2 separate regions of the Homo sapiens genome follow, and region 1 is linked to region 2. Evidence: fine-mapped expression QTL. A gene starts in region 2. The other region holds a variant in brackets. All regions are shown on one strand. Distances are from middle to middle. Region 1 holds the start of TMPRSS4 (transmembrane serine protease 4). Region 2 holds the start of SCN4B (sodium voltage-gated channel beta subunit 4).

Region 1 (5,368 bases), 76 kb after region 2:
TGACTGCCACGTTTCTGAGCCCAGCCAAGCCCAGCCAAGCCCCTTGACTCTGTACCAGGCTGGCACGGAAAACAGGAGGTGGGAGGGAGGACCAGCTTCCTCCAGAGCAGCCGGAAGCGTCAGGGGGTTGACCTCAGGTGTTAACACCCACGTCTGGTGGCTCAGGGTGCGTTTAGGTCTCCGGAACAGTAATGAGTCAAGGCCAGGATAACCAGTCCCAGGGTCCCTGACTTCCCTCCAGGCCTCAGCTATGGAGTAGTTAGCATGGGACACATTTCCTTCGGGGACAGGGCTTGGGCTCTGACCTCTGCCTGGGCCTGAGTCCCTGCTCCAGCTCTCCCTAGGAATACCCAGCTTAATGGGTTCTTGGGAGAGCTGTCATTAAGACGCAGCAGCTCAAAGGACCCTGACTGTCACAGAAAGGGGCCTGTGGGGATGGAAGGAGGTAGGGAATGGAAGGGAAGGGAAGGGAGGGCTGAGCCTGGGTGTGGAGATCCCATCCTCCCCTCAGGGCTGGGAGCTATGGCTGTCAAGGGTTATTAAGCACAGGCTTAATGACAGGGTTATTCAGCACAGGCAGTATAATGGCTAGCTCCGGGGCTAGAAACTTCCTTGACCACACCGTGGAGATTGGCCATGCTGCTGCCTTGCCTTTGGGGCCCCAGGCCTGACCTGACCCCTCCACCAGTGTTCCCACCTGCCCTCCCCCGCTCCTCCAGCAATGCCCAGCTCCTTCCCTGGTGGCAAAGGGTCTGTGTTGGGTGTACTACCCAGCTGTCATTTCCTAGCACAGACTCCTCTTTAGTCCTAAGTCCTTACATCTGTGCGGGGCTTCATGGTTTCCAGAACCTACTCACATGTATTAGCTGTGTAATCTCTGCGAACCCGGTGCATGTGCGTGGGGCTGTTGTGGGTCATATCGTTTCCGTGGGCAGGGGAGAAGGTGAGTCTCGGGAAGATGAATGCCTCAAGACAGCACAGCTAATCAGGGAGCTGGCCTCAGCCTTCTGATTCTGCAGTTAGTGACCTGCCCTAGAAATGATTCCCTTCTCTGTTGCTCCCCCAAGAGACACCCCAGGTCTCCTCAGTGCCTGCCACCCAGAAGCAGCTCACAGCTAGGTAGACTCCACAGCTGCTCTCCTCTCCTGGGAGCCCCAGGGGATACAGCGTCTCTGCACACAGGCCAAACTTTGGGGCGCCTCCTTGGATGGGAAAGCAGGAAGCTTGTGCTTTGATCCTGGCTCAAAGGGAAGCCCCTTCCCCTTTCTGATCATCAGCTACAACCGCACTAAGAATTGTTCTTGCCAGAATTTTCAGAAGAGTGTCGTGGGAAGTGCTCAGGTTGGGAATAGGAGACAATCACTCGAGGGGCCCCTGCAGGTCACACCCTTCCCCCTTGGACAGTGGCTTCTCCTTTCCTCTCTTCCCTTCCCTTTCACTTTGGTGGCTGGGCAATTGCTGCCTCTTGGCCAAGGACTGGAGAAGGAAGACCCCTGGGTTCCTCCTCAGACCCAGTTATTATCTCTTCCCCTCCCTGGCCCTCAGCTGTCCTCCTTGAAAGATAGGGTTGATTCTCTTTGCCCCAAGACAGCGAAGACGCTCCAGGTATTCAGAGGAGGAGGAGAGAGGGTGAGGGCATGAAAAGAGACCAAGTAAAAGATGACCACAAACACCCTAGATTGTTTGGAGGCATCTCTGCACTGTTTTCTTTTCCTTCTTTCTTTTTTTTTTTTTTTTTTTTTTTTTTTTTTTGAGACGGAGTTTCACTCTTGTTGCCCAGGTTGGAGTGCAATGGCACAATCTTGGCTCACCACAACCTCCGCCTCCCAAGTTCAAGCGATTCTCCTGCCTCAGCCTCCCAAGTAGCTGGGATTACAGGCACCTGCCACCACGCCTGGCTAATTTTTTGTATTTTTAGTACGGATGGGGTTTCACCATACTGGCCAGGCTGGTCTCAAACTCCTGACCTCGAGAGATCTGTCTGCCTCAGCCTCGCAAAGTGCTGGGACTACAGGCGTGAGCCACTGCACCCAGTCTACACTTTTCTTTAAAAAGAAAAGGAATCAGTTTCCCCAGGGAGTGGCAGAGGGCAACCGTGGCATCAGAACAGCCCCCTGCCTTGGAAAAATAGTGCCAACCTCTAACCAACAGACCTGGAGACATTGGGCAAAAGAACATGCAGGATTCAGGAAAGAATAGTCGGGAAGGACAGCCCTGGCTCTGTGCTCAGCTTCTTAGGTGAGCTGGTCCAAGGACCATGGCAATGGAGGAAGAGAGGAAGGCAGGTGGGTATGAGACGTGTACCGGGCTGGGGTGTGAGGGGATTTGGGTGTGGCCTCTTTTTTTAACCTAGAAGGTGTCACAGAATTCTCAGCTGATGGATGCTCAGGCTGCTTGAAGGGCCTTACATGGGGAGACCCACCCTTCCTGTGTCTTGGGAGCAGAGGGCCCCACACTCACCATGCTGGCTCTGTGATCCTCCCGGTCTCCCTGTAGCCTGGAGCTGAGATTGTCACCCCAAGGCAGCAGGAGGGCCTCCCCACACAGGTCCTGGCTGGCCAGCAGGTCAGAAGTCCCTGGTCAGCACTGGCTGGAGGAGGCCCGAGTGCAGGGCAGGCCTTGGTCCCTCACGCCCAGCATCCTTGTCCGCTGAGCAAGCTGCTGCCTCTCTCTGTGTATTCCAGGAGTGATTGGGGGACTTTGGGCAGCTTGATTAAAACAGCCCTACAAGTGAAGTTGCCAAACTGGAATGATTATGTGTCTTGTAACCTGACACCTATCTTAGGGGCTGGAACAACACCTGAAGTCATTCATGGGACCTTCGGCCTCAGAACAGGTGACACACCTAAGGCGTAACAAAAGCCTTCCCGCCTGAATGACTTCCACCCAACTGGGTGTTGGCTGAGGGTGATGCCAGAAGTTTCCGCCCCCC[C/T]TCCCCCTACCTTCTAGGTGCATGACTTCTCACTGTGTGGGTGCTTTGGTTTGGGGTTGTGGGAAGTTGGAGTGGTCTGGGGGTTGGGCGACAGGGTTTGCAGCTCAGTACAAAGAGATCATTGCCAGGTGTGGAGCAATAGGATTGGAAAGTCCACAGAGAAGGAGGGAGTTTCTTCTCTTAGGGAGGTAAGATGTACCCCCTTTCCCTGGATCCCAGAAGTGAAGCTGTCCTGCACAGAGCCAATGTACTAGTGCTTCCTGCCCCTGCCTCAGCAGCCGTTCAATATTCTGAAAATCACTATTGGTGCTCTGGCTAGAGCCCACGTCTCCTCGTCCACGGAGTCATTTCCTTCTTTCTTTCTTTCTTTTTTTCTTTTCTTTTTTTAAGACAGGGTCTCTCTCTGTCCCCCAGGCTGGAGTGCAGGGGCGCAATCTCAGCTCACTGCAACCTCCGCCTCCTAGGTTCAAGCAATTCTCGTGCTCCAGCCTCTCGAGTAGCTGGGACTACAGCCACCTGCCACCACACCCAGCTAAGTTTTGTGTTTTTGTATTTTATTTTATTTTGAGACAGAGTCTCTGTTGCCCAGGCTGGAGTGCAGTGGCGCGATCTTGGCTCACTGCAACCTCCACCTCCCAGGTTCAAGTGATTCTCCTGCCTCAGCCTCCCAAGTAGCTGCTGGGATTACAGGTGTTGTGCGCCACCATGCCTGGCTAATTTGTATTTTTAGTAGAGATGGGGTTTTGCCATGTTGGCCAGGCTGGTCTCAAACACCTGGCTTCAACTGATCCACCTGCCTCAGCCTCCCAAAGTGCTGTGATTATGGCGTGAGCCACCGCACCCAGCCCCACAGGATCATTTCTGATTCACGTTCTGCCACATCCTGATAGCTGGAGCTGCCCCCTGGCCAGGGGATGTGCAAGGTGAAACCTTACAGCCACAGATATTTTGCTGGGAGAGACTTGGATAATTGTCCACATTGTTCCCCCATTCTGTGGGCGACAAAACTAAATTCCAGAGAGGCAAAGTCAATGACCCAAAGTCACATAATGAATTAGTGTCTGGTTCCATATGAATCCAGATCTCCTTCCATTTCTCAGACCTGACCCTCCCAGGAGACCAGCCTGGGTTAGACGTGTGTATTTGTCCTTCTGTTGATAACGTGCTTCTGTGTATCAGCCCTTTAATTCTCCAACAACAACCCCAATATTTTGTTCCCATTTGTCAGCTGAGGAAACTATAGCCTATGGACATGAAGTAGTTTCGGGCAGAGTTGGGGCTGGAACCTGGTTCTCTTACTGGTTCACACTGCCAGGCTTGTGAACAGGCTGAATGGAACACAAGTGTTTGAAAGCCCCAGGTTCATGGTTTGGGATAATATGGCCCATGGAGGACCCCAGTGATGTCTGAGCAGGAGGAATACCGGATCTGTGTAATGGATTATTGGCCAAATCTCAGCTGATGAATGCAGTGTGGCCTTGGACTTGTCTCTGAGCAGCAGAGATCTGAAGCTGGCCTGCAGGGCTCTGGAGCCAGCACAGCCCCAGCCCTTCCTTACTGATGGCTGGTGGCCTTGAGAGTTGGAAGTCTTGGGCAGAGGCAAGAGCCTGTGATCTCAGGTGACCTCAGGGTCAGGGCCGTGATGGTCCAGGCAGGCACCTCCCCAGCAGCAGGGCAGTGAGAAGCCAGTGGGCCACTGGGAGCCACGTTTTCAGTTGTCTTGGTTCCTCTATGTGCCAGGCTAAACATCTGGCCCACAGGTTTGCATTGCTTTACCTGGTGCTCAGGTGATGAACCAGGAAAGAGGCAGCTGTCTGGGCATGAAGGCTGCTGGGCATGGCTGGTTGGAGGGATGATGACTCAGCCCTCCTGGCTTCTGCTCCCATTTGGGTCTGGGAGTTTGTGGAGAGGTCCGGGAAGAAGGCACATAAGCAGGACTGGGCAGGGTGGCTGTGATGCCTGCAGGTGGGGGTGAAGGTTTACAGAGGGAGGCACAGTGGCCTGGAGACAACAGAGGCCCACCTCTCCCAGGTGCCAGGGAAAACCAGCTGGACCAGAACCCACATTCTTTTTTTTTTTTTTTTTCTGAGACAGGGTCCCCCTCTGTTGCCCAGGCTGGAGTGCAGTGGTGCAGCCTCAGCTCACTGTAACCTCCACCTCCTGAGCTCAAGGGATTCCCCCGCCTCAGTCCCCCAAGTAGCTGGGATTACAGGTGTGAGCCACTATGCCTGGCTTATTTTTGTATTTTTTGTAGATACAGGGTTTCACCATGTTGACAAGGCTGGTCTCAAACCCCTGAGCTCAAGCGATCCACTCGCTCTGGTTTCCCAAAGTGCTGGGACTACAAGTGTGAGCCACCGCACCCGGCCCAGAACCCCCATTCTCCCGGAGGAAGCCTCAGCTCTCCCTCAGCCCTGTCCTGCCTGCTTCTTTCTC
Region 2 (5,368 bases):
CCTGGCATCCTCAGTAGCAGCCTCTGAGTTAGATCGATGGGCTAGGGTTTTGAGAATTTTTGAGGAAAGTGCTCTATAAATGTAAAATCCTCTAGCCCTTAAGCTAATGCATTTCCCAAGCACTCTTTCTGCCCAGCTGCGGAGCCCTCCTGGAGTTCTTTAGAGGAAAGCTGGGGGTGTGGATTGGGGAAATCAAGTAATGGGGGAGGTTCTAACGCTGACTTTAACAGTAACTGTGTAGCTGACCTCGGGTTACACATTCTACCTCTCTGAGCCTCTTTCTTCATCCCTAAGGCATGAGGGTTTCCTATGGACCCTTCAAACTCTATGAACTGGTGAGGTAGCAGTGAGGTAGCAGGGAAGGTGGGGAGAGGACACTGAGGACGTTGGCCATCTTTTCCTGTCACCAGGATCTAAAGATATCCCTGCAGCTCTGTCCCTCTCCTCCCCCTGCTCTGGGCAGGGGTCACTTTCCTTCCCTTTGGCTCACCTCCTCTCTCACCTCAGTCTAGGGTTCTGAGAAACATGACCCCTGCTGTAAAAATAAAGTGGTCAGTTTGTATGCCTGGCCCTGCGGATCTAGTGCAAGGACCTCCTGGGGAAGGACAGGGTAAGCCTGCGGACCTGGAGACAGATGGGGAGGCTTAGCCTCAGGGCCCACAGACCTCTTTAAGTTCAAATGTACTGAGTGTTTATCCTGTGCCTAGCTGTCTGCTGAGCACTTTTACATGCAATAATATCTCATTCCCTCTTTACAGCTAGGTCCACTTTTGATGTTGCAAGTCCTGGAGCAAAGGTACAAATGGAAATTATACATATGTCTAAATATTAATCAGGATAACAAAGTGTTAAGATTGATGTTTTATCCTCTGCCTTTAATTACTTTTCCTTCATGATAACCTGGAAAACCATGTCCAAAATGAAATTTTCAGGCCATTCTCTGGTACACACTCTTCTCTGGTCCTGTAGTGAGAGGGGCTCTTGTGCATGCCTAGGGTGTGTGTCAAGTTACATGCACTCCCCATCACCTGCATACAGCTGTCCCTTGCCCACTGCTCTAGCCCTTGAGTGCACACCTGATATGGCCAGCCCTTGAAAGGACAGATCTGGGGAATAGGGAATTCCAGAGTTCCTGATACCTGGAGTACAGTCTAGAAGGGGAGGAGGTGCATGCCCCCACCTGCCCTGCCCCCTTGGTCCCATGGACTCATTCTCCAGTGAGGGGCATGGCCAGAGGAGGGCCAGAATGAGGGCCTTTAAAACCAGAAATCAGGGCTGAGGCTTCTGTTGCCCAGGTCCAGGGGTAACATCGCTCTTAATAAGCCTAGGAGGCAAATATCATTGCATTCACCATTTTATAGGTGAGGAGCAGAGGCTCCCCCAGAAGACCATGTAACTTGCTCAAAGCCATACAGTCATAAATGGTGGCGCTGCCAGAGCCTCTGTGCCACTATAGGGAAGGCAGCGACCCTCTCTCCTGAAAAAGCAAACAGACATTCAGCACTTTGCCTGCAACCTCAAGGGGTCCGTGATCACGCCGAAGTCCACCCAGAGACCCCTCGTTAAGAAGGCGGTGCGTTGGTGTGCCTGCAGCAGAAGTCAGACCATGAAGTGGGAGCGGGCTTCCCAGTCCGGACCAGTCCTAGACAGTAAAGAGGGCCTGTGATGCAGGGAGGGTCTTGGATGGTTGGAAAGGTGCTGAGGAGGAGATCGACTCATTTACAGAACCACCAGCCCAAGTAGCACCGCTCAGGTGAAACTCTTTCACTTGGGCCTGTCTGGGAAAAGGCTTACTCGTTCACAGCCTCGCCTCAGCCCTCTGACCTGGTTGTCACCCTGGACTCCTCCACCCCTACCCCAAAAGGGAGGCCGAGGGAGTCTGCCGTTCCGAAGAAAACAGGAGAGTTGGAGGAGGGCGAAAAGGCAGCATCTGAGGGGGACGGCCTAGGTAGGAAAAATGAGAAGCAGGGGTGCAGCGGGAGGGTGAAATGGGGCGCAGGACACAGACCAGGCGCGGACCAACCTGCTCCCTAACCTGGAGCGTGGTGATTTCCAAGGGGTCCATGGAGAAATGTGGGGCGGGGTGGCGTGGGGGTGGGGGAAGGGAGGGCCGGGGCAGTTTGCAATGGGAAAGCTCTGTTCCGGGCTTCCTAAAACAACCGCCGGAGTTGCTGAGCGATGGGGCAGAAGGTGGCGGGAGCGGGTCCCGAGGCTGCACGCGCGCCATGTCGCACGCCACCGAGGAGGCGCAAGCTGCAGTGGGCAAGCCCGCACACGCCCACCCGTTGCGGCAGCGTCCGCTGCGGACTTTAAAGCGGTCCCTTGGCGGTCCTGGGAGAGGGAGCCGCTAACCTTCCCGTGTTCCCCCAAGCAAAGCAAAACAGTCTTCCAGCAACCGAAAAGCTCCACCTCTACTCCCCCCGAACTATGCTCCTAATTGGCAGCTCAGCGCATGGGATGATGCGGGTGGCTGCAGGCCGGCCCTGCAGTGCCAGCCGCAGCAGCCCAGCCCCACTGGAGAGGGAGTTGGGGGCACGGCGTGGTCCCGGGGCTCCGGGACCGCGAGGCGGGGTGCGGCAGGCAGGGTGCGCAGCGGGCGGGGGCTCCCCGGCCTACGCGGCGGCCACCGCCCCTCCTGCGGCTGGAGCGCTTCCAGAGCAGAGGCGCAGCCTCGCTCGCCGCTGCGCTCGCTCCGTCTTCCTCCCGCTCCTGCTCCGGCTCCTCCTACTCCTTCCCTCCCGCCGTTGCTCCAGCAGCCGGCTCCCAGCAGCGGGCGAGCGCGCCTCCCCCTCCGCTCCCTCCCTCCCCCTCCTCTCGCTCTCTGCCCGCTAACTTTCCCGAGCCCCGACCGGCGGCGCAGAGCTCCGGGGTAGCTTTGTGGCCGAACGCCGACCTCGGGCGGAGAGCGCGGCTGTGCCCAGTATCCCATCCCCGCGACCCCCGCGCGCTCCGGAGAGAACAGGACTATGCCCGGGGCTGGGGACGGAGGCAAAGCCCCGGCGAGATGGCTGGGCACTGGGCTTTTGGGTAAGGCAGCCCCAGCTTGGTCTCTTCTCTTGCCTCCCCCCACCCCCAAAGAAGGGGACACTCGAGAAGGAAGATGCCTTGGATGGGGTGGGCTTTGGAGTGCGGCACGGAATGAGGATGGTGGCCGCCGGCTTCCTGCCTGGTTCCTGCCTGGTTCATAGGCTGTGCTCCCTGGGGACCGTGTGCGTCCCTCTCTACCCCATCAGCCCGCCAGTCTCAGGATTAGTTTTTTTGCTGTCCTTGGCACCTTCGGCTCCAGGTATTTGGAGCTGGATCTTGGGGCTGCAGCGCGGGTCTCCAGAGTTCAGAGGTTCAGGATGCTGGAGGAGGGGGGTCCGTGCCTTGAGTGCAGGGGATACCAGGTGGGTTGCACGTGTGACTGTTGGAATGGTGGTTTCCATCCCGGCCCAGAGCCGTTTGCTTGTTTCCCAGGCACCAGGCATGCACCAGTTGGGGGTGGGGGAGTCCCCTTCTTCCTGGGCCCTTTTCCTGCTTTGCTCCTCTGCCCTGTACCTCCCTCAGGAGCCACTGCCTTCCCTACAGCAGCACCTGAAAGCTGGAAGGGGCTGGAGGGGCTTGCGGGATCATTCAAGGCCCTTTAGGAACGGCCTTGTCTCTCTTCCTACAAAGAGATTCCGTAGGGAAGACCTGTTTGACCTGCTCCTGGCTCTTCATTTTTGAAGTGAATATGGAGACAGAGAAGACATGTCCAGAGGACACGGAGGAAGAAGCATTATTAATATCTATTAATATGCACATGAGAGTTTTGAGTGTCAAACTCCAAGAGATTAGGGAATGATATTTATTCATCCAGGATGTAATCTCCTCATAAATCATAGCCAGACTTTAATGTAAGCCGACTCCATCTCTGGCAACGGCATCTCTTCCTGTTTATATTGGTCAGATTTGGCTTTTGGCAGCTCCCTGCATTGGGTAAGACACACGGTGTAGGTATTTCTGCTGAAAACAGGGAGACAGAACCCTATAAGGGAAGTGGCTACTGTTTCTGCGAATGTAAACTGTGTGCAGATCTAGCAGGTTGGTGCCTGGTGGTGAAGAGGGGAGAGAGTATTTCTTGTACTTGGGATGTTTATTTACCTCTGTACCGCTAGATGGAAGACACCCTTGTTTTCTCCTGTACCTTGGCACAGATGTCATGCTGGTTTCACAGTGACCTTAATGAAGTGGGCCTTAGTGACGCCTGAGGCTCCTTTTCACAGGGTGGGCACAGCGCCATTCCATGCTACTTCCCCTCATCCCATCTCAGATCAGCCCAGGTCCCCATGGTGGCAATGGCAGGGGTAAAGGATCACTGAGGAATTCAAACTCAGCCAGTCATTAAACTACCCCACTTCACACCTCTGGCTTACCTTCCTGGGTGGTGGGATGCCAGTCCCTTGTTTGTTAGAATACTCATAGAACCAGGCCTCTGTGGGCAACCAAGAGGGCCCTGAAAATGATGTGTGTGTGTGTGTGTGTGTGTGTGTGTGCACGTGTGTAAGGGGGATTGTAGGCACAGTCTTGGTACATTGCTCCAGGTGGAAGCCCCACCTTCTCCAAGGACTGTTCAGCTGTATAGACCAGGTAGGGGCTAAGGCCTATTGATATAGGTTTAGATGAATTTCTGAGCTACCCTTTGGGAGCCCAGGAGAAAGCAGAGTGACTTGTAGGTGGGAGACCTGCAGGCCCCAGGACTGGCCTCATCTGCTCTGTCCCCTGCCCCTCTGGTCTGCAGAGGGACTCCAACCAAAGTCCCTTTGGCCCTTGACCAGGTAATACTGACTGAGCCCTCACAGGGGCATTGGTCTGAGCTTGGGACATAGATGACATCCTTGCTTCTCAGTCCAGTGGGGGAGATACAGAGACGACTGGACAGCCAACTGGAGGTGTTCCCTGGGAACATCAGAGTTGGCAGCAACTCTGGGAAGCAGAGCACAGAACTCTCCTAGGGATGAGGAAGTCATGGTCCAGAGAGGGATGGTGACTTGTCTAGGGGCTCATGGCCAATTGATGGCCAAGTGGGACAGAATCTAAGTTTCTTGGGCTCTGTCACACCACGCTGCTTCCCACTTAACTCAAGTCTGGTGAGGGGGAAGGTAAATAGTGATTGTGCTTAGGGCTGAAGAATAAGTGAGGCTCTGGGGCATGAGTGTGGAAGGATAAAGACTTGAGGGGCCTAGAGCGGCTCTTTTCACAGCTTCGGAGACTGGGTACAGAGCAGTGAACTCCCAGGAGTCCTCTTCCCCTCTCCCCGTATCAAACCCAGTCTCACAGACTGAGACCAAAGTGATTTTTGATAACCTAACAAAATACCCTTTTCTTAAACTGAGAAGCAGTTTCC

The links. PIP is the estimated chance that this variant, and not a neighbour inherited with it, causes the effect.
Region 1: its variant is the best candidate, but not a certain one, in a credible set for the expression of SCN4B in whole blood (TOPMed, PIP 0.71).

The regions. Positions count from the first base shown.
Region 1 is chr11:118,074,398-118,079,765 of GRCh38, reverse strand. The region is part of intron 1 of SMIM35 (small integral membrane protein 35); the gene reads left to right. It overlaps TMPRSS4 (transmembrane serine protease 4), which reads right to left and starts at 2,688. Exons shown (of 13, transcript NM_019894.4): 1 at 2,461-2,688. The coding sequence starts at 2,463. RefSeq lists an enhancer at 2,238-2,833. The variant C/T (reference allele first, on the strand shown) is at 2,933.
Region 2 is chr11:118,150,272-118,155,639 of GRCh38, reverse strand. It overlaps SCN4B (sodium voltage-gated channel beta subunit 4), which reads left to right and starts at 2,817. Exons shown (of 5, transcript NM_174934.4): 1 at 2,817-3,027. The coding sequence starts at 2,967. RefSeq lists an enhancer at 1,699-2,199.